3 linked regions of the Homo sapiens genome follow. The protein of the gene in region 3 interacts with the protein of the main gene of each other region in a pairwise test. Each region holds a gene or a part of one and is shown on either strand. Other genes may lie near its edges.

Region 1 (7,110 bases), on a different chromosome or scaffold from region 3:
CTTGCTCTGCCCCTCCTGAGAGGCTCCTGCTTCTGAGTCTCAATCAACAGCACACAAGGAACAGGAGTGGGGCCGCTTCCAGGGGTGCCCATGGAGCCCGGCGTGTTGGTTTTCATCTGATTCCCAGGCCTCAGGCAGTTTCCAGAGGCTTGGGGACACCACGGCTGTCTTCCTAGTGGAACAAAACGAACAGAATTCTTGGGCTGGATAACCAGCTGTCATCCCCAGGTTCCTGGATAATTCCAGCAGGGATGTGAGGCTCTGGGTGCTGAAAAAAGTAACTAGAACCGTACCAAACACTCTTCTCACTTCCATCTGGGTGCTAAGGAGCCTAGAGGGGAGCAACTCTGTGTCTAGACACAGTGGCATCTACCTGGGTTTGGAGTCTGATAAGCCCTGAGGGGAAGCTGTCAAAAAGCTAATAATACTGTGTGCTTAGCCAACATGTGCTCCCCACGGGGTTTCCACCGCTGCTCTGGAAGTTCCTTCCTCAGAAAAGAGAGTCAGACCCTCCTTGTCTCCATTCCACGGCTCTAGAGACTAAGCCTGGACTGGAAATCGCAGCCAAGTGGAGTTGTGGGGCTAGTCAGAGACGATGCTTAGGATCCTGGGACTCGACCATTGCCCAGGAACATCTCAGACAGGGAGACATGTAGCCAGGTTTGCACAACTCTGCCTGCGTGCGCAACCCCAGCTGAACCCCTTCCATTGCTACGTAAAGAACTCAAGTGGCTTGAAGGCTTCTAGGACAGGTTTTTAAATCCCAACTGTACGACTCCCTAGTTGAGTGACCTTAGCCAAGGGAAGTGGGAAATAAATTATTGGATGGCTAAATGTGCCAGGCACTGTGCTTGCATTGGAGCCTGTCTGACCCCGAAGCACATATCCTCTCTCTGTGAGCACTCGTCCTACACTCAGAGCCAGAGGCCTTAGGCTGGAGGCACAGTTATTTGACTCTGGGAAGTCACTTCCATCCTCTCTGGACCTCAATCTCTCTTCAGGCAAATAGGACAGTCCTGCTGACCCCATGGGGTGATGGTGACATTAAAATGGAACAGCGTGGTGAAAGCTCTCTCATACTCAGCGTGTACGATCTTTGGGACCATCACAAGGAAGTTTTTAGAAATATAGATTGCTAGATGATGGGTGAGGGTCTTGACCCAGTGGCCCTGAGAATCTATGTCTAAAAAAAAAAAAAAAAAAAAAAAAAAAAAGCACACTCAAGGCAGGTTTGTGAAGCAGCTCATGTTTACAGATGTAAGGGATGAATATCATTTCCCCAGACCTCCGGGATGCCAAAATTTTGCTTCCTCTTCCCTGCCCCACCTAAAACGTTGCCAGTCCCAGCCCTGCCCTTGGACTCTATCTCTGAAGGTTTTTATTTTATTCCTTCACTGATAGAATCTGGCTGCCTCTCAGCACCTTCCAGCCAAAGACCCAGGGAAGGGAGAGAAGGGTAGGAAAGAGAAGGCTCTGATCCAATGCATAAATTGCCCTTAGTTACCCAAATTGGGTAAATTGGCATGGAGGGTATCCAAGCCACAAGGTGGAGAAGCAGCCAGGGTCTGAGTAAGCAGACGAAGCATCCAGGTGGTGGCTCACCCTCTGCCTTTGGCTAGGAAACAATGTGTGTTGGTTGAATCCCAAGGGACACATCTTGTATTTATTTTACTGACTTTGCTTGTATTTTTCTAACCTTGTTGGGTACTTTTTTGGGGGTGAAGAAAGTCTAGGACAACCTTTTATGTTTGAAATTCTCAAATATCCCTACCAGAAGAGGCACAGGCTAGCATGGATGATTCCAAACAAGGGATTGAGAAGTCACTTCCACTGGTTTTAAGGTGAATGGCATGGAGGTACCCACTCCCCCATTAAATTTACCTTCAAGCCTGGTGTGGTGGCTCACGCCTGTAATCCCATGACTCAGGAGGCTCAGGTGGGAGGATTACATGACCCCAGAAGTTTGAGACAAGCCTGGGCAACAGAGCAAGACTCTCTACCCTGTCTCAAAAAACAAACAAAAAAAAAAGTAAATTTACCTTCCGAGTTTGCTTCAGCTTCAAATATAATATCAGCACGGTTTACACACCATGAGAATGGTAGGCTGGGATGTTGGAACAAGGAGAACTCAAACTCAGAGCAGTCTCATCGCTGAAAACTCAGGCGTTGAGGGTCCCGGTGTCACATGCACTGTATACATAAGGAGATGAGGCCCACAGAAGGGTGGTGACGAGATTGCCTTTCCTCCAGTGCCCACGCTGCTTCTGGACTTCTGAGTTTTAGTTGTTTTTATCTGTTCACCTTGCCTGCAATGATGATTGGTTGACCTGCAGGATTCAAGGAGCATTTGCAGCCCAGAACCGGTGTAGGGGGCATTTGTGGGTGAAGGAGATCTGTGTTCTAGTCCTCTGGCTGCTAACGGGCTGTGTGGCCTTGGGAAGTCCCAGGCATCTCTAAACCTCAGTGCCTTATTTGTACTTCAGGGAGGGGAAATGTGTGGCTTCCAGGGGCTCTTCCAGTTTCTAGGCTTCTGCATGGCAGACTCCATTTTAGACTGCGACTGCAGGAACAGAAAGGCCAAGAGCTCTGCTCAAAGTATAAGCTTCACGGGCTAGGCGGCTCCCACGGGGCCCCAGGAAGGGGAAGCCAAGGCAAGAGCTGCCCCCTCTGTTCCCCAAGGTCACAGCAGCAGAGGTGAGCTCAGAATAGAAGCAAGGCCTCCATCGCCCCACCCACCCGGAGGAGCCACACCAGGAGGCCCGTGCGGCAGGTGGGTGGGAGGAGGGCGTGCTTGGCTCCTCTCCTCCTGGCGCTGCTTATTTATAGGAAATACTCCTCCAGCTCTTGGGCCAGAGACAACCCAGGAGAGTAAAAAAAGGCAGCTCTGGAGGAGACGCCAAGGGGGATTTAATCAGCTGAATCGAGTGAGATGTATAAATCAGTGCCGACTTCCACTTCCTGACAGGCTCTGCCAGGTTCTGTGTTGTCAGGGTCTGGGAGGAGATTCGCCATGGCTGTCCCCCGGGCTGTAACACTTTCCCTTCGTTGCTACAGGTAGGCAGTCACTGGCTCGAGGTTTCCTCCAAACACAGATTTCCGGGCTCAAAACCCTAGACTTGCCCTGGAGGCTGAAGACCCAAGCTTCTTCAAGTCCTAAAACAAAAACCGGGAAGCTGGGGCCTTCTTTTTTGCCCCATTTTGTCTATTTCCTTGACCATTTACCTGTCTCTAAATCCTTGCAGTTCACGCCTTACGATTCCAGCATTTGAGCATGGGAATGTCGCCGAAATGGCCATTGGACCTGTTAACTGGTTCAAGCCCCGTCTTCAGATGAGGAACCGTGGCTAGGAGGAGCTAAGAGACTCAGGCAGGCCTCCTGAGGCTCCCACACTTCACTCGCTGCCTTTTTTCTTCTCCGAACCTAGAGACCCTAACCTCTCCCACATCCTATTCCTTCCTCACAAATTCTCTCCAAGCACCCAGCCTCCCAGTGCAGGCTCCCCAGAAAGCAGGGAGGGCTCCACAGCAAGTCCAAGGACTTCTTTACCCAGCTGTTAACTAGGAATGGTGAGGAGAGCAGAGGGCCAGGAAAACATGTCTTACCTGCCTGGGCTAACGCAAAGAAAAGCGGCAAAGGTTCCGTGCTGGTCGGCAGTGTGGGGAGAGGAGAGTCTGTTTCCAGTGGAATCCTGTGGGCAGCCTGAGGAAGAGAACAGGATCGATGCCATGTGCCGAAGGTGGCTGAGGCTCATATGAGACACCCTTAGAAGACAGGTTATGGGAAGGCTAGGGCGGCTTTCATTTGCTTATTTAACATGTATTTTAGTATCCTGAGCTAGGTGCTAAGGATACAAAGGTGAGAGCTGGAGGCTGCTCTGTGTGTGCAGCCTAGTGTGACAGGCCTGTGATGGAGGTGTGTGGAGAGCAGCCGGGGGACGGGAAAGCATCAGGAGACAAGCGTCGCTGAAGGATGAGCAGGTGCCGACCAGGTGAAGCCATTTTCTCAGACCCGGCTGACAGTGGAATCACCTGGGGAGCTTTTAATAACCCGGAGCCCATTGAATATGATGGATCTGATCAAGAAAAAATCCAGAGCCCAGGACACACTCCTGAACAATTAAATGAGACTCTCTGAGATTGGAACCCAAGCATCATTACTGGAGATTTCAAAGTACAGCCAAGGAGGAGACCATGGGGGTTATCAGATAATTTGTGCCTTAGGTTTTCAGGGCAATGGAATGGTTAAATGGGTGACTCTTTTTGTTTTTGTTTTTTTTAATTGAGCCTTCTTATTCACCCTTTCTAGGAAACCAAGAGAGTTGCCTTCTGGACCTGGGTCTGGGGAGGAGCTAGAAGGAGGGAGGGGGGCAGGCAGGAAGGGGAAAGGACGGAAGAGGACTCTGGGGCTGTAGGGTCTAAGCTCTCAGTGTCATTGTCACAAACCACGCCTCCCTCACTGCCAGGACCTCCTGCAGAATTCCCCCAATTCCATGTCCGGAGTCTCCAATAACCCCCAGGGGATTGTGGTCCCAGCCTCAGCGCTCCAGCAGGGCAACATCGCCATGACAACCGTCAACTCACAAGTTGTGTCAGGTCGGTGCAAAGACTGGGAAGGGTGATTGTGGGAATTCCCTGGGAGGAGAAAGGGTGGCCCCGAGGCGGTTCCAGGGGTGGGGGTTGTCCTCCACCGAGGGAGGGGCTCCCAGCTCAGTTTCTTGACTAAAGTTTTCTGTAAGTTTATAGACGGTTAGCGCCAAGACCCAATTGTGATGGTTTAGAACAAATTTGGGTCAAAATCTCATGAGCCCCTGAGAGGACCAAGTAAGGCTGTTGTCCCTTCCCCGAAGCACCTCCCACCAGAGGCTCTGTCCTAGGCTCTAGACACCATCCCCCACCCACCCATAAAGCAGAAAGCCATAGCTCGCTACCCAAGGGCTCCAAGTAGAGGGTCTTTACACATGAGTGCCAAATGAACTGGGAACCCTGCTTGCCCTCGCTCCTACCCACTCCCATGGCAGGGGACCCCAAAACTGGTTGTCTCCTCAGGTGGAGCCTTATACCAACCGGTTACCATGGTAACCTCCCAGGGTCAGGTGGTCACCCAAGCAATCCCCCAGGGAGCCATCCAGATCCAGAACACACAGGTGAGTGTGTGTAGGTGTGTGCACATGTGCATGGTGTGGGCTAGGGCACCTGTAATCGCTTCTTATCTGCCAGGCACTTTACACGGGTGACTCATTGAATCCTCATCATCCTCTAAGAGGTATCATTACCCCTACTTTACAGATAAGAAGCTGGGTCTTGGAAAGGTTTTATCAACTCCTGGGATTTTGCTGCCTCCCTCCTGGGGTTACATCAAAGGATCCTGCACTTCCTATTCCTGTCTGCAGACTGAGCCGCTGTGTCCCTCAGTGGTAGAGAGTGCACACACAAAGGAAGAGTAGAAAGATCGGAAGTCAGAGTCTGGGATCTGACATTAACTCTGGGATCTCTGATAAGTCACCTAACCTCTCTGAGCCTCAGACTTCTTATTGATAAAAGGGGGATTAATAGCAACTGCACACAGCCTAGCCAACCTACAGGGCTGCTGTGAGAATGAACCACAGCGATGGATAGGAAAGTGCTTTGCAAACTGTAAAGTACCACAGAAATGCTGATAACTACTTGACAGCTTATGGCAAATTCATATCTTCTCCTGTTCTCTCTGCATGGCCCTGTTTCCTCTGTCTTTCTCTCTCTCTCTCTCTCTCTCTCTCTCTCTCTCTCTCTCTCTCTCTCCCCCCCTTCCCCATCTCTTCCTCCTTGTCCTTCTTCCCTTCTCCCATCACCCAAGCCTCACCTCCACTCTCTGAGGGGCTGGCATGGGCTGAGAGGGAAAGGTGACCTCCCCAGGGCCCTAGGAATGAGCCGGGAAAGGGGCTGGCAGCCAAGCCTGCCGTCGCTATGGCAACAGGTCCCCAGCCGCTGCCCTCACAGGCTGCTGATGCTGATTTTCTCTCCACGTGCCCTGAAGGTTAACCTTGACCTCACCTCCCTCCTGGACAATGAGGATAAGAAGTCCAAGAACAAACGAGGAGTCTTGCCCAAGCATGCCACCAATATAATGCGTTCTTGGCTCTTCCAGCATCTCATGGTGAGTGTGTGTGTCTTGGGGGTGTGGAGTCCCGGCATGGGGTATGAATAACCCACCGTGTGGGTACCAGACTCTGCTGTCGGCTCCAAACCCACAGACAGAGGGCGCGGCCTCGGGGAGAGCTCTCTGATAGGAATGACATCTGGAGTCCAGGCCAGGGGGGCTCAGGTGGGGCCTAAAGCTGGAGACCTTCTCCAGTACCTGCTGCTGTTGCTATCTGGAAAAAATGTGGCAACACATGGGGTAATGGGGACAAGTGCATGCTCAAGAGTCAAGTGCTGGGCAGGTGTGTCACACTGTTTCATGAACAGAGAGAGGGTCACTGCGGGGAGTGGGTGGTTTCTGGTCCAGAGCCCTCCCCCTGCCGCAGCCACGCTCACCGTGCCCCTCTCCCATGGAAGAATGTGTTGACTCTGCCAGGACTCCTGAGTCCTCCCCACTGGGTGAGCCAAGCGCTGTGTGGTGGAGATGGGCGCCAAGGCTGGAATCCTGGCTCCTCATGTCACAGCTCAGCTCCAGGACACAGCACTATTTCTTTCATAAGCTGCAGCAGCTCCTTTTATAAAATGGCACACTACCTCGGGTTGCAGTGGAGTGTTACTGAAGTGCATACTGTGTGAAGGTTGCTATGTGTTTGTGTGCAGCATTAGTTGCAAAAGACGAGCCTTTGGTGGAATGTCAGGAAAGACTTCAAAATTGCAATCTCCCAACACCACTTTCAAGGGCTGTGGCAGTAAATAAAGGCCAGTGACTGTGCTGAGTGTGTATGCGCTGGTGTGTGTGTGTTCTGGGGTGGGGAGGTAGATGCTGTGACCACGGGCGGGCTTCCATTAGTCTGCGAGCTCCTGCCCTGGCATGTCAGGACAGACAGACACAGATACAAGACAAATTCCAAGGGACTGAGGATCCATTGGCTGGAGAACTGTGGGAAGAATCAGGAGGAAGAGGAAATCCTTCTTCAGGGAGGAGAAAAATCG
Region 2 (7,699 bases), on a different chromosome or scaffold from region 3:
AGTTATCTGAATTACTTTACCTCTTAACATTCATGATCAAACTCCTAAACACAGGAAGACTTGTAAGTCTCTTCAAAAGGGAGAAACTCATGGTAGGAAAAGTAAACTGTCAATACTCAGCCTAATATCTTTTTTTTTTTTTTTTGAGACGGAGTCTCACTCTGTCGCCCAGGCTGGAGTGCAATGGCGTGGTCTTGGCTCACTGCTACCTCCACCTCCCAGGTTTAAGCAATTCTGCCTTGGCCTCCCGACTAGCTGTGATTAGGTTCCTGCCACCGTGCCTGGCTAATTTTTGTATCTTTAGTAGAGACGGGGCTTCACCATGTTGGCCAGGCTGGTCTCAAACTCCTGACCTCAGTGATGTGCTCGCTTGGCCTCCCAAAGTGCTGGGATTGCAGGCATGAGCCACCGCATCCAGCCTTTTTGTCTTCTTGGGTAAAAAAATCAGGAACAGAACTTGGAGAACCCTCTTGTATGATTGTATATAATACCGAGAGGACTGAGGAAGACTTGGGATACCATAACTGCTTTAAGAGTGTTTAAAAACTGTAAAAGTAAACATCAGTTGAGTTATTGATGCTTATACACACATACAAACGCATAATCCCTAAGGGAAAAAGTGTAAGCAACTCCACATAAAAGTAGATGTGTGCACAACTATTCCCTCATTCTTGTCCTAAGTTTTGTCCTTCCTTGCAGTTTGCTCAGAATTTTAGTATATTGCTATTCCTGTCCCTAAGAAATACTGCTTCTCTCCCCGCTGCTTCCCCGGTGTACATACCATACTGCAACAACCCAGCTTAAGAAAATTGATTTTTGATAAGTTAAAGCAGTATTTCCTAGATGAGAGTACTCAGAGCAACTTTCAAAATCAGCTAGGAAGCACATTTGAAATAAGGACTTAGTGTGATTCACCCCAAACCTACTAAATCAGTCTCTGGGGGTGGGTCTAAAATTGTGCACATTCTCATGTACATTGAATTTTGGGAACCACTGAGCTAACAGAAAAAGAAACTAATACCTGCTCATTGGTTTTTGTGAGAATATATATATATAAAGTAACTGATGCACAGTAGGTAAAATACAGAAGTCAGTGCTTACAACAGTGCCTGGCACACAGCAGGTGCTCAATAAATACATGTGAACAAGTTAATTAAATGACTATTTTTGTGGGTGGCCCTGCTTTCCACCTAAGGCCAATCTCAAAATGTTTTCACTTTTAATAAAAACATAAATACGACTCCAAAAGCATTGAGAAAATGAATGCAGCTTTTGCTGAAGTTGTTATTTTCCAGGGAAATAATGTAAGAGGGTTTGCATTACACAATGAAGTTCCCTAAATACCGCTTTAAGATATCTCAAATTTCCTGGCTAGGTGCAGTGGCTCACGCCTGTAATCCCAGCACTTTGGGAGGCTAAGGCAGGCAGATCACATGAGGTCATGAGTTCGAGACCAGCCTGACCAACATGGTGAAACCCCGTCTCTACTGAAAATACAAAAAATTTAGCTGTGTGTGGTGGCACATGCCAGTAATCATAGCTACTCAGGAGGCTGAGGCATGAGAATCGCTTGAACCCAGGGAGGCAGAGTTGCAGTGAGCCGAAATCACACTACACTCCAGCCTGGGCGATAGAGCGAGACTCTATGTAAAAAAAAAATTAAAATTAAAAAAAGATAGCAAATTTCCTCTCCTTAAGGCAGCTGCACCACCTCCTTTACCACCCTCTCTGTCTCAGGAATGCTCTGTCCTCCAATTACCTCTCTGCTTTTCCTTCCCTTAGACCATGCTCAAGCTCATCTTTCCTATACCAGAAGCCCACCATAGATCCTCTTCTCTCTCTAAACATATGGGAGAGTGTTGGCCTACTTGTTTCTCCAAACTGCACTCATCAATCTGCCCAGCAAATCCAAGCATCTTCCCCAGGATTCACCCTCCACAGGATGCTGGGGGCAGGGTAGGAAGAAAAGGTAGTTTTAAACATTAATAATTTATTTTCCCCAGTCACTTAGGAAATCAATAATGGGTAGTTGCTATTTATTTATTTATTTATTTGAGATGGAGTCTTGCTCTGTCACCCAGGCTGGAGTGCAGTGGCGTGATCTCAGCTCATTGCAACCTCCCCCTCCTGGGTTCAAGCAATTCTCCTGCCTCAGCCTCCCGAGTAGCTGGGATTACAGGTGCCCGCCACCACACCCAGCTAATTTTTTGTATATTTAGTAGAGACGGGGTTTCACCGTGTGAGCTAGGACGGTCTGCACATCCTGACCTCGTGATCCGCCTGCCGTGGCCTCCCAAAGTGCTGAGATTACAGGCGTGAGCCACCATGCCCGGCCTATGTAATGTTTTTTTTTTATTTACCATCTTTACCATTTTAAGTGTACAGTTCCCAATGGTAATAAATATATGTTCAGCCTTCTTTTCCCCTTGTTGTTTTCCACCCCCTCTTCTCTCCCCTTCCTGGCTTCTGTGTTATTTATTGTTATGCATCATTGGAAATAGTATCTTCAATTTAATTACACTCTGAAGCAGGTGTGGTTTTTTGTTGTTTTGGGTTTGGGTTCTATCTTGTTGTTTTTTGTTGTTGTTGTTGTTGTTGTTGTTGTTCTTGGACCAAATACAATATCTAAGTGGCTTTAGGGACTCCTCTCTAATCTAAGTTATATTGTTACAATCCCAGCAGAATGCTAAAAGGACAGGAGTTTACAGCTTGTGAGGCCGTGGTTCCTAATTCCAGATGGACAAAGGAGTATTTGTTCCACCTTTAAAATATTTGTTCTTGCCTGAGTACTTAGCAATGAAAGAAAATTAATGAACAAATTAAGTGAAAGGCAAGCAATGATTCCTGGAGAGCAAGGCAGCTCCAGGGCTTTTGGCAGGGGAACCATGCTGACCAGAAGGAACTGTGTGCATTCTATTACACAAATTCTCTAGCATTCTATTATACAAATCATCCAATCACCTTTCTCACATTTTTTTTTCCAAGTTGAAAATATGAGAAAACCACTCACTGGAAATGAGAGATTACCTTCCTATCCATCTGGCAAGACATTATATGTCTCTCTGCCTTATCCTATGGGTTATATAGCTACTCTTTAAAAAACAAAAAAATCATGTCTTAGAAAGTAAAGCTCCAGAGCATAAAGAAAAAAAGAGAGCAAGCAGGCTTTAAACCTGAGCAGTAAGGGGAATACCTATTAAGCAATGAAAGGGTTGTGCCCCATGGAATGCTGTAGGTCGGCTTTGTTTGTGCATTATTACCCTTCCTGCTTTCGTATTTTAGATTCTGGATTCCCCTTCTCTTGCTTTCAGGCTTTGGTGGAAGTGAATCATCGTTTCTAAGAAACGGGGACTGCAATGATTCACAGGCAAGCTTACTGGACACCACAATAGGAACTCCTAAGAAGGAGACCTAACTTTTATGGTCTTGCTTCTACTATCTACTAGCTGAGTGATCCTGGCCAAAATACTCGACATCTCTGAACTTCTGTTTCTCTACTAAGACAGGAATTAAGAAAGAGGTTGTGAGGCTCACTGAGCCGATAAGGGGGAAAATGCATTGTAAGCAAGGCCATGTATAGAATAGTATTTACATTTTAACCCAGATCTTAAAGCCCAGGTCTAATTAATTCTACCTGTTACCCCTTGGTAAACCACCTCAAAATAGTGTACACTTGTCTGGAAAGCCAAGGTTTGATCACATTCGGGAAACCCTGTATGGAATTACTGTTTCTAGCTGCCAGGAGAAGTTGGTGTTGGTAGAATTTGGGGTGGAGTTCCAAGTCAAAGCTAGGAATGAGACGTTTCAAGACTGGTTTTGATTAGGGATGTGTCTTGGTGTGTGTTGAGGACAGCACAGTTTTCAGCACGTCTCCCTTACCTCTAAAGTCCTAGCCCCTGCTTAAGCCTGCAACAGTTTTCTCCTGTCATGCCCACTTCTGCTTGGGAACACACTTCCAAACCCTCTGCCCAGCCTCTCACAATGGCCCTAAGTACTGCCCTGAGGACACATAAGGTGCTGGTTAAGACGTTGGAATTGAGTCCTTGTAGGAAAGTTATTACCTTTAGGCTGGTTGCAAAGTTTGATTTGGTGTCTTCTCTACTGTGACTTTCCTTTACTTACTTCTACTAGATTACCAAGGAATGGGTCTAGGGACCAGTGGGAGGGCAGCAAACCAGTGTATTCTAGACACGTGGCCATAGGATGTAGGGCTGTCAAGTGATGCCCAAAAGATCTTGTTTCTGGATTTACCCAACCGTTCCAGGAGGCAAAACGGCTTCCTCGGGACCCTCTCTCTGTCATCTACACTCTCGTCTCTGCAGCTAAGCCCTTCCTTAAGCAGAAAAGAGCAGGGTCTCTCGTCCAGCACCCTCCTCCCCAACCCTAGCCCCGTGCCCTCCGCTAACCCACCGTGCAATTATCTTCATTCATCCTTTACCTTTGCCCCGAGGGTCTAACAACTGCAATCTTCGGAATGCTGGGACAAAGCTTACTATGAGCATGGAAGCCTGTTTTCAATAGGGTGGTTGCTAGAAGGACTCAACTGGCCTTTTAGTGCTTTGCTGCTCGCGGGAGGGCTCGGCGGGGCGGTGTCCGCAGCGACTCCGCCCTTGGCCCGGGTCTCTTTCCCGCCGGGAAGCCCCGCGGCGCCCAGAGCGGCGGGCGGCTGGCTCCAGTCCGCATGCTCAGTAGCTGCTGCCGGCCGGGCTGCGGGGCGGCGTCCCGTGCGCGCCTACGGGCTGCGGTGGCGGCCGCCGCGGCACCCGGCAGGGCCCGCCAGTCCCCGCTTCCCTGCTCCAGAGCCGCCGCCTGGGCCGGGGCAGGGCGGGCCCGGGGCTCCTCCATGCTGCCAGCCGCGGGGCTGCGGAGCCGACCAAGTGGCTCCTGCGATGGCGGCGGAAGAGGAGGCTGCGGCGGGAGGTGAGGTTGCCGGTGGCGAGGCGACGGCCCCAGGTGGGCGCGCGGCGTCTGACGCGCTGGGGGCGTCCCCGCGACGCCAGGTCTGCCCCCGCTGCCCCGAGGGAAGCGCCCGCGCCTGTCCTCTCGGGCCGGAGCATCGCCTCCGAGGGGCGGTGGGACAAGGCCGCCCCGTGGGGCACAGGTGCGGCGCGGCGCCCGGCGCGTCCTCCCGGGGAGCGGGACGCGGGGAGGGGAGCTGGGGTCGCCGCCGGCGCTCAGGACGCGGTGTCTTGGTCCCGGGCCGGGCGCATTGGCGAAAGGGAGCCAGCGGGGGACCTTGCACCCGGCGCTGGGAGCATCCGCCTCCACCCACTGCTGGGCGCCCGCGTCGGCGTCGGCATGGCATGCACTGCTGCGGGGACTTCCTATATTTCTTCTTTCTTTTGTGTAAACCAGTTGTCAGCAGCCTCGGACCTAGCCCGGTTCCTGTGAACCCCTCCCCTCTGAGCTGATAATACTCGCGGCTTCCCGGCTTGAACCGCTGCCCCGCGGTGGAGCGCGCAGGTGGGCAGGTGCGCGTGGACGCGGGGCCACACTCCGGGATCGCAGCCCGCTCCGCGACAGCCCTCCATAAGCGACAGGCGGCTCGTGTCTTTCACCGCTGAAGCTTCAGGAAAGCCGTCAGTGGAGTTAGCTTGTTCGATTATGTATTTCTGTGGTATTTTTGTGAATGGAGTTGGAAGTTTGCGGTGCTTTTTCCTTCTCGCTAGTATTCACTGGCAGTATTCTGTAGTTCCTTACAACGGGGCCTTTGGGACCACTGCTCACAATTACGGAATGAATACAAAATAGCTGTTGTTTAAGACAAATGAGAGGCAGGAAAACAGAAATAACTGAAGGAAGACTGGCAGAGAAGTTCAGGGAAGCAGTTAATTCTCCCCTTTCCTTTTGGAATAAGATGATAGAGTTTTAGATTCTTCTCTGAAATAAGGCAATGAGAGGAGGTGGCTTTCGAAATTCTAATATAATTGTGGGAATTTACATCATGGGGCGATTTCAGAAATTCGATCATTTGAATATTCGTAGTCTTAGGTAAACCCTTTGTTGAAAATAGAAGATGGCACGTGTGGTGTTTATAAGCTCTGACACCCTTTCTGCTCCGTCTTGTGACTGAGCTCTGCCCTTTACTGTCTGTGTCACCCAGGTTATTTGAAATCTCTTAGTCTAAGTTCCCCCATCTGTAAAATGGAGATAACTATGCAGTCTGCCTTATAGGATTGTTAGGAGTAAATGAGATATGAGATATGAATGCAAATAAAATGCTTAGCCCAATACTTAGGAAATAGTAAGTGCTTCATAAAACATTAACTTAATGTAGTTATTAATTTACAACTTCAATTTGCTTTGTGAAATTGGTGAGTGCTGTCTGGTCCATTAAGAAAGTGTTGTCCCTTGTGAGTTAAAATTGGCCAAACTGAAAGGAAGTGAAAATGCACCTACTAATTCAAAGAAAATGCACCTACTAATTCCCCAGATAAGTCTTACGAACTTACAACAAGCTTTTAGATAAAGTTTAATGCTATTTATCTAACTATTTTAGATTAATAGTTTATTGCTCTTTGCATACCAAATGTAAAGCTGGGAATAATAAAAATTAAATTTTCTTAATTAAGGGTAGCAATGTTTCTGTGCGGGCTGGGAGAGCCCGCAGGTATGAGTACCTAAGATGTCACAGACATTTCACAGGGGTGCTTCTGTTAGTCTTACAACAGCGTTGTGAGGTAGGTAGTATCTCCATTTCACAGATGAGAAAACTGAGGCTGGCTCACAGTTATACAGCCAGGACATGACAGAACTAGAGTTAAAATCCATGGCTGTCGCCCATACTCCTTTCTTTTCTTTCCCATCTGACTTGGTGGTGCTAATGAGCAAGTGTGCTCACTTCCAGACACCTGCTTATCTAAAGAGTAGTAAAAAATAGAACGCTCAACGAAACCTCTAGGAGGAAAAAATGTATATGTATTTTTACTATTTCTCCCTATTCCCAGAGGGAAAACAAAAACAGGCCTCTGGGCCAGTTGGTGGCCATCTACAAAACTAGCCCTAAGGTTTTGTTTTGCTTTGTTTTGTTTTGTTTTGTTTTGTGTTTTTTTAACAGTGTAAACCAAACTATGGGTTTCCCCACCCCATCAGTTTTAGATGGTAAACACCGAAATTGAGCATGCTGCCAAGTGACTGGGTGTCCTCCTAATAAATGATTCCAGAATCCTTGGGGTAGGAAGAGGGCAGTCTTGGGGAGCAGCACATTTCCAAGACTCACTGCCAGAGATGGTCTGGGGTTGAGGCCTCTGTGGGGCAGCTTTCTCACCTTCCGTTTTCTTACCAGCTCATGTTTTCACCTATGATAGTGTAAGATCCAATTCTTTTACATGTAGTTCTGCAATTACAGTGGTTTAAATTTACTTTGTGAGTCAGAAATCAAACGTCATGTCCCAATCAATTTTGCCTAAGCTCCTGTTACTGGCATGGATCCTTGGGCAAAATTTCAGCCAGAAATGCATTATTCAAGATAAACCAGGATGGGCTAATTACTTTTCACATATTTAAGGGGGAGGAAAATAGAGAAGGAAAGAGAGAAAGAGTGAGAGGAGGGAGAAGGCAAGAGAGGAGGTGTGAAGTAAAGAGAGGAGGAGAGGGGAAAGGAGGAGGAAGGAGAGAGTGAAGGAAGGAGAAGGGGAGGAGGGGAGGGACTGCCACTCCATCAAAGTTTGACTCCAGGAAAAACAAAAACTAACGTTTA
Region 3 (6,401 bases):
TACACTAATGGGATCTTTATCTTCAGAAAAGCTGCTAATATAAAACACAATGCCTTATCACTAACAAATCAAATTAGATATAATCTAAGCAGGTGTATGTGAGCAGGAAAAAAACCACATTAGAGCCACCTGAATCTAGATATGATCTATGATTTTGACAGCATTCAGTTTTGTTCTCAAGATCAGTGACATAATCTTTACTACATATTGTTATTTTTAAGGTATGTGCAGTTTTGTAACAGCAATACAATGCAGGTATGTACACTTCATTGTAAATAACCATTCTGGCGAAAAAAAGGCTTTCAATGACTTTGGACAAGTAAATGATTCTTGGTACAAAATCATACTTCTTTGGTATTTATGAAAAAAAAGGAAGGTGTTTTAACTCTGAGCACCCAATTCCTGGTGCTCCATTTAAGTATTTAAGATGTTTCTAATTAGGGTTGAGTCTTGTTGTGAACAGCTAGTGAAATACTAACATGGGAGGGCAAGTTTTATGAGCATTGATAAATTGAACACAAATTATCTGTTACAGAGACTACAAAGAGCTATAGATAAAAAGTACAGCAAAATGATTTCATGAAATCAATATTTTATTCAGTGTCAAAGCATCTTAACTGAATTGTGTAAGTAATTTTGTCTGTAATTTTAGAAGTAACATTTGTAGAAAATATCAATATTATCAGTTGTGCTACTAGAAATATTGAAGGAGTTAATTCTGAATTTATTCATTTATGCAGTTATCTATATCCACTTAGGTACAAAACTTTTGTAAGAAAGATAACACTTTTATTGCATTATAATTTCATATTTTACAGGAGTCATAATGCAAACTTATAAGCATAAATATATACATGATGCTACCAAATGGCAATGTAACCACTAAGAGATTTAAAACATAAAACTAGAATTTAACAAGCAAAATACTTAATATGGCTTTTAATGGAAAATAACTGTTTAGAAATGATTTGTTATTGCCCCATTCTAGTCATTCCCCATCAAGTGAACATAAAATTATGATCTCCATTTAAAACGGTACAAGTTATCTAAGCCAACTTTGTACTTTTTTGCTACTTTTTTGTAGCATGTATGCAGTATGATTTCTGGACTTCCTTAAATATACATACATATATACATATATACAGATATACAGTACACAGTTCTGTTTTAATACCCCTGAACATCTTGATTAAAACTATTACAATTTTTCTATTATAAAACTACTTGAAAAGTTGGCATAACTTCCTGGTATTGAAGTTCAATCCTACAGAATTAAAAAAAAAAGCAACAAAATGTTGGTTATAAATACATTCTTTACAAAAAAAAATTGAATAGTGGTCCCGCACTCATAATTTATATTACAGTGAAAACATTTTATCAATTTAAAGGTATTTGTATCTTGTTGTCCTTGGTTTCTGTGTGAAATAGAGGAAGTTAATAATGAGAATATTGTAGGCAGGCCTATTTGTTAGGTTTTTCTAGGTGTTCATTTTTGTGTAAGTTCCAATTCACTTCTTTTGAGTTGTTGTTGATTTCTATTTGCCTTGTATTACTGCTGCTGCTGCTTCTTTTGGTGTTCTGGGAACACTGGGTGACTTTACTTCTAGGAACAGGAAGAAAAGATTTAACTCTTGAAACACCCAACTCAGTCTTTGATTTACTGTTGCTGCATTCAGTAGTTTGATGGCTGCTGAGAGGACTGACCTCCTGTAAGAGACAAGAAACCACACAAGTTTATCACAAACTTCTCCTGTTATGAGCCCTACCCCTGCCTCCTCTTTGAGCAAATGTACAGGAGTTTCTCTCTAAAACTATAGGTTCTCGTGAAAAATCAAAAGAAAATGGAGAGGAGAAGCTGAGTAATTAATTTCCTATAGACTTACTGCATGATTTTCATTAATCCATCTGCTGTTACAAAATTCCTAAATACAGGAGTCAGTGAATCAAGTGCTAAGGCGTCGATCTCCTTACCAACAGAAACTTCACAAAATTACAGGCATGAGGAAATCACCAAATTGGAGTAGTCCCATTTGTAGGTAGCTCTACAAACTATGTCACCTTGGGTAAATCACCTAACTTTTCTGCTTTCTACTTTCAAGTCTTAAAAGTGAACTATTACTCAATAATCAAATAATCTGGGGGCATATAGGAGAAAACATAAGAGAAACATTCCTTCCCTAGCAGAACCTACATTCATCTATGGTTAGGCCACTCAAGATCTTCCATACTTGGAAGCTGCATGTTCTCATTTCTCTAATGTTTCAGAAATCCTGTGATTACCTGGTCAATGTCTCTCATTTTGCCCATGAAGAATCTGAGAGCTGGATAGGTAAGATGATTTGCCCACAGTGAACGGAGTGGTGAAGCTGGGACAAGACCTCAGGTCTCCCAACTTTCACTCAAGGTATTTTCCCTATATTGCATTAAATTCTGCAAACTAACAAACATGACATGACTCCTACTAAGTGACCTACTCTGAATGCCTCTGAAGGAGTTGACCTTGATAACTTCTCCTCTTCAAAAGTAATAATGCACCCAACAGCAATATAACCATTACAAGAATTTAAAACAAAACTAAAATTTAACAGGAAAAATCTGGCTTCATCTGGCAGTTGCGGCAGTTGCATTCTCCTGGGTATCGTCTTATATGACATTGGAATCACCTGGGGGAGCTTTAATAGTCATTGGCTGGGCCCTATTACCAGAGATTCATATTTAATAGTTCTGGGGTGTGGCATGGACATACGATTTTAAAAAATCTTGCGGCCAAAGAACGCCTAGCTTAACTCCTCACTATCCTTTTTCTCCATTGAGCAATTAAATCAAGGGTCCCCAAGCCACAGGCTGTGGACCAGTCCATGGCCTATTAATAACTGGGCAGCACAGCAGGACGTGAGCGGGGGCGAGCCAGTATTACCACCTGAGCTCCGCCTCCTGTCAGATCAGCAGCATTAGATTCTCATAGTAGTACAAACCCTCTTGTGAATTGTGCAAGTGAGGGGTCTAGGTTGCCCAGTCCTTGCGAGAATCTAATGCCTAAAGATCTGAGATGGAACAGTTTCATCCGGAAACTACCCAGGTCCGTGGAAAAATTGTCTTCCACGAAACCAGTCTCCAGTGCCAAAATGGCTGGGGACTGCTGTCCTAAATGGTAGCATTTTTCTTAGCCCTCTATAAGTCACACATTGATAATCTTTCCCTTCAGAGTATTTCAAGCTCTAAGTATTTCCCAAAGTTCTTTCTTTAGCCCTCATTTATCTCCTGCATTTCCACCCCACTAATTCACCTATATGTCTAGCCACACTTCAAATTCTTTCTAAAACTGTATTTATTGCATTTCTTCAATACTAATTTCTAAAGCCTTTCCGCTTGGCTCATTACTGGCTAATGCTGCTCTCCCAGTGAATTTAGCAGGAAATCCTCAGTTATCTTTAGCAGCTGCCTTTCTCTCTCTCCTCACCAACCTAATCCAATGTTACCCACAAAATGGGCAGAGAATTATGGCTGTGTTTGTGTGAATAGGAAGGTAAAGGATAAGTCCTCACTAACTGGCATGTCACTAAAGTTCTTTTAAAGTTTGGCTCCAATCCCCTTTAAATCCTATTTTTCCTTTACTTCCCTGTTAAAGTCCTAATTCTTTAAAGCCCAACACAACATGTTCATTAAACTACCCCTAAATCACCAAAGTGAAATCTCTTGGGGTCAGATTTTCAGACTCAGCTAATCTTAAGTGGAACAGCAATGTAACTCTAATATATACTTGGCTAGTGGTTTGGGAAAATATAAAAACACTGAAACAACAAATATGTAATGGAGAATAAAGAGGGGACAAATCTGGGGTCCAGGCCACCTGCATTTACAGGGAAAGGAAAGAGAAGTCTAGACTGCAAGAAGCTAGCTTAGAAAGGCAAGAGCTTCCTGATAAAACAAAAAACAGATGGGCTCGGTTTTAACTACGTCCGAGGAAGCCTGGAAAAAGGCTGAGCTACATCTGGTGAGGGAACACATCCTAGTCCATCCTCGTCACCTCCATGTGTACTTGATGGTATGTTAAGGGCGAATCTGCTTAGTATGTTCTGCTTTTGTTTTGTAAAGATGCTTATGCTGTCAAGTTACCAGAAAGAAAATGAGAAGTTACATTGCTTGTCATGAGTTGGATGGTGATAGTCACAACTGTAAAAACAGTGCAGGTACCAGGATCCAATCTCATTTTTCCTAACAAGAAATTACTGTTAAGTCCGCAAAATGGGACTTGGTCATGGGCCTACTAAGGCCAATTAGAACTTGTAATTTGGTTTAAAACACCAGCAAATGCAACACATACGTAGTATTCAGAAAACATGAAATATGGCATTATAATAAGGATAACAGTTAGTTGCTATACAGAATCTGGTGGTGAGGGGAGTTGTTTAATTTTGCCATTATTGTCAAATCTACAGAGTTAATTAATGCCATGGCCCAGAGGAAGGAAAGGAGACATACACTGTTCTAGTCTGTTTCTGTACCTGCAACATGATGGTGAGGGGAGTGTACCTTCATGGTCTGAGGCAGGAAATATCCACATGAAATAAAGTACTGAGAAGTACCCAGAACAACTAAAAACATGTAGTTTGGTCAGTCCCTGGAAGTGTGAGGCTAGAATGGAAGGAGTTAGGATGAGAACATGGAGAATCACTTGGGCTTAGCGTGAGCCACAGCAATTCAAGGCCAGGAGTGCAAGAATAGAGCAGGTGACCAATGCACAGCATCCTGCCTGAAAAGTGCTCCTGACACCCTGGAAGTCAAGCCTAGGGGGCAGCGGAGTTTAGGAGCAGGAGAGTTACAGGTGTTTAATGCTTCCTGGGCTAAAACCCCCGAATTATCTGTATTAAATGTATAACGTTTACTATCCATATTGCTGTGCATGTTAAACTCAAAAACTAATTTGTGTAGAAAGGCACTGACCTAAAGTAAGTTTTATTTAGCCTTAAAGAATTGGTAAATCAGAGCAATTCATTCAATACACAGCATCTACTAGAAGCTAAGAAGATATTGTAATTCCTCTAGATGGGAAAGTTAGGGGCAGGAGGAAAAGAACAACATGTAGGGAAGGTGGCATTGGGGGTGAGTCTTTAAAGAGGCACAGGACTGTGACGAGAGAAGGTTCTATGGGGAGGAGTACAGAGGGAAGTAGTAAATTACATGTAAAAAAGGAACATGTGAAAAGCTACATGAAGGCATCTCAATCCCTCTAAAGATATATTTGGAAAGAAAGAAATGGGTGGAAAATGAAGATGACAGATCAGGGCTATGTTTTAGAACAGTGGGTCTCAACCCTGGATGCATGTAAGAATCACCAGGGACCTTTAAAAAACCCATTGTCCAGGCTTCCCCTCAGACTAGAGTCCAGGCCCTGAAGTTAAAAAAAAAAAAAAAAAAGAAGCCTCAAGTGGATTTCATCATGCAACCAAAGATGTGAACTTGTCCTTTCAGAGGATTAGTTTGGATTTACATAAAAGGAAAACATTTATTAACATTTGTTCTTCCTGTTGATTTAAATATGTATATTTGTTTTTAATTCAGAAGGCCTGCTAAATGCCACTTGATTAGTAAACCCAATTACTCTCCCTTACTGTTAGAGCAGTGAGGAGTTATATTGTTGCAAATAATAAAGATAACTTACTCATTTTTGTTTTCCAACAGATAATGATGGTTGCAGGGCCCCTCTTCAATGGAGGCATTGCCAGCCTTCTGGCCATGAAGGAGAAAGTGATTTCAACTAACCCAGGAAACTCTTACCTCTAAATGGAGATACTTCCTGATAACAGAAGAAACTGGGCATCTAACCCAGAAATACCAGCTGAGTAGGAGAAGAGAAAAGGCATCAGCCAGTCAAGGTTTCAGAAGGCTGCCAACAGTAAGTACCACTTTGCCCTCTGCTGGCACTTTCTGAGAAAAACATCATCTAGCTCTTGGGGAAGAGTCCCTCCAAATAAGTGTCTTCAGTGGGCAAAGGGAGAGAAGACTAGGAGGCAGCGGTCCTAATTCCCACATCAAATTGCACATTTAAACAATAACATAGTTTTTTTTTCTTTGTATAAGAGCCCAGATAGTATAAAAGGACTCGCTTTAAAAAATATCTTAAACAAAGCTGCCCAGAACTTTGACTTTCAGTACTACTTTTTTTTTGTGGACAGTACCTTATTGTAGCAACTCAATATGGTCATGTGACAGAGAAATAGGGGTATGACAATGTTTGTTTCTTTATTAGACATTTAAGCAGCAGCCATTCTCTATTTTTACACAAGAAAGTGATTTGGGCTTATGGGGAAGGTGGTTCACTGTTCCTCTTGCTAAGATCCTCCTGGCCCCTTCCACTGACGATGTTCCACAAGGAATCCTAAATTCTTGGGTCCTAGAGA

What was found.
Region 1: the proteins of CTTNBP2 (region 3) and PKNOX2 interact in binary tests that used the Homo sapiens proteins (3 or more experiments, as listed by UniProt).
Region 2: the proteins of CTTNBP2 (region 3) and BMAL2 interact in binary tests that used the Homo sapiens proteins (3 or more experiments, as listed by UniProt).

What each region holds. Positions count from the first base shown.
Region 1 is NC_000011.10:125,405,733-125,412,842, forward strand, and holds part of PKNOX2 (homeobox protein PKNOX2), read left to right. Parts: intron 1-4,463; coding exon 4,464-4,593; intron 4,594-5,046; coding exon 5,047-5,144; intron 5,145-6,013; coding exon 6,014-6,133; intron 6,134-7,110.
Region 2 is NC_000012.12:27,328,184-27,335,882, forward strand, and holds the start of BMAL2 (basic helix-loop-helix ARNT-like protein 2), read left to right. Parts: upstream 1-4,652; 5' UTR 4,653-4,889; coding exon 4,890-4,920; coding exon of another isoform or gene 4,921-4,953; intron 4,954-7,699. UniProt on the Homo sapiens protein: Transcriptional activator which forms a core component of the circadian clock.
Region 3 is NC_000007.14:117,710,076-117,716,476, forward strand, and holds the end of CTTNBP2 (cortactin-binding protein 2), read right to left. Parts: exon of another isoform or gene 5,808-6,401; intron 1,708-5,807; coding exon 1,462-1,707; 3' UTR 576-1,461; downstream 1-575. UniProt on the Homo sapiens protein: Regulates the dendritic spine distribution of CTTN/cortactin in hippocampal neurons, and thus controls dendritic spinogenesis and dendritic spine maintenance.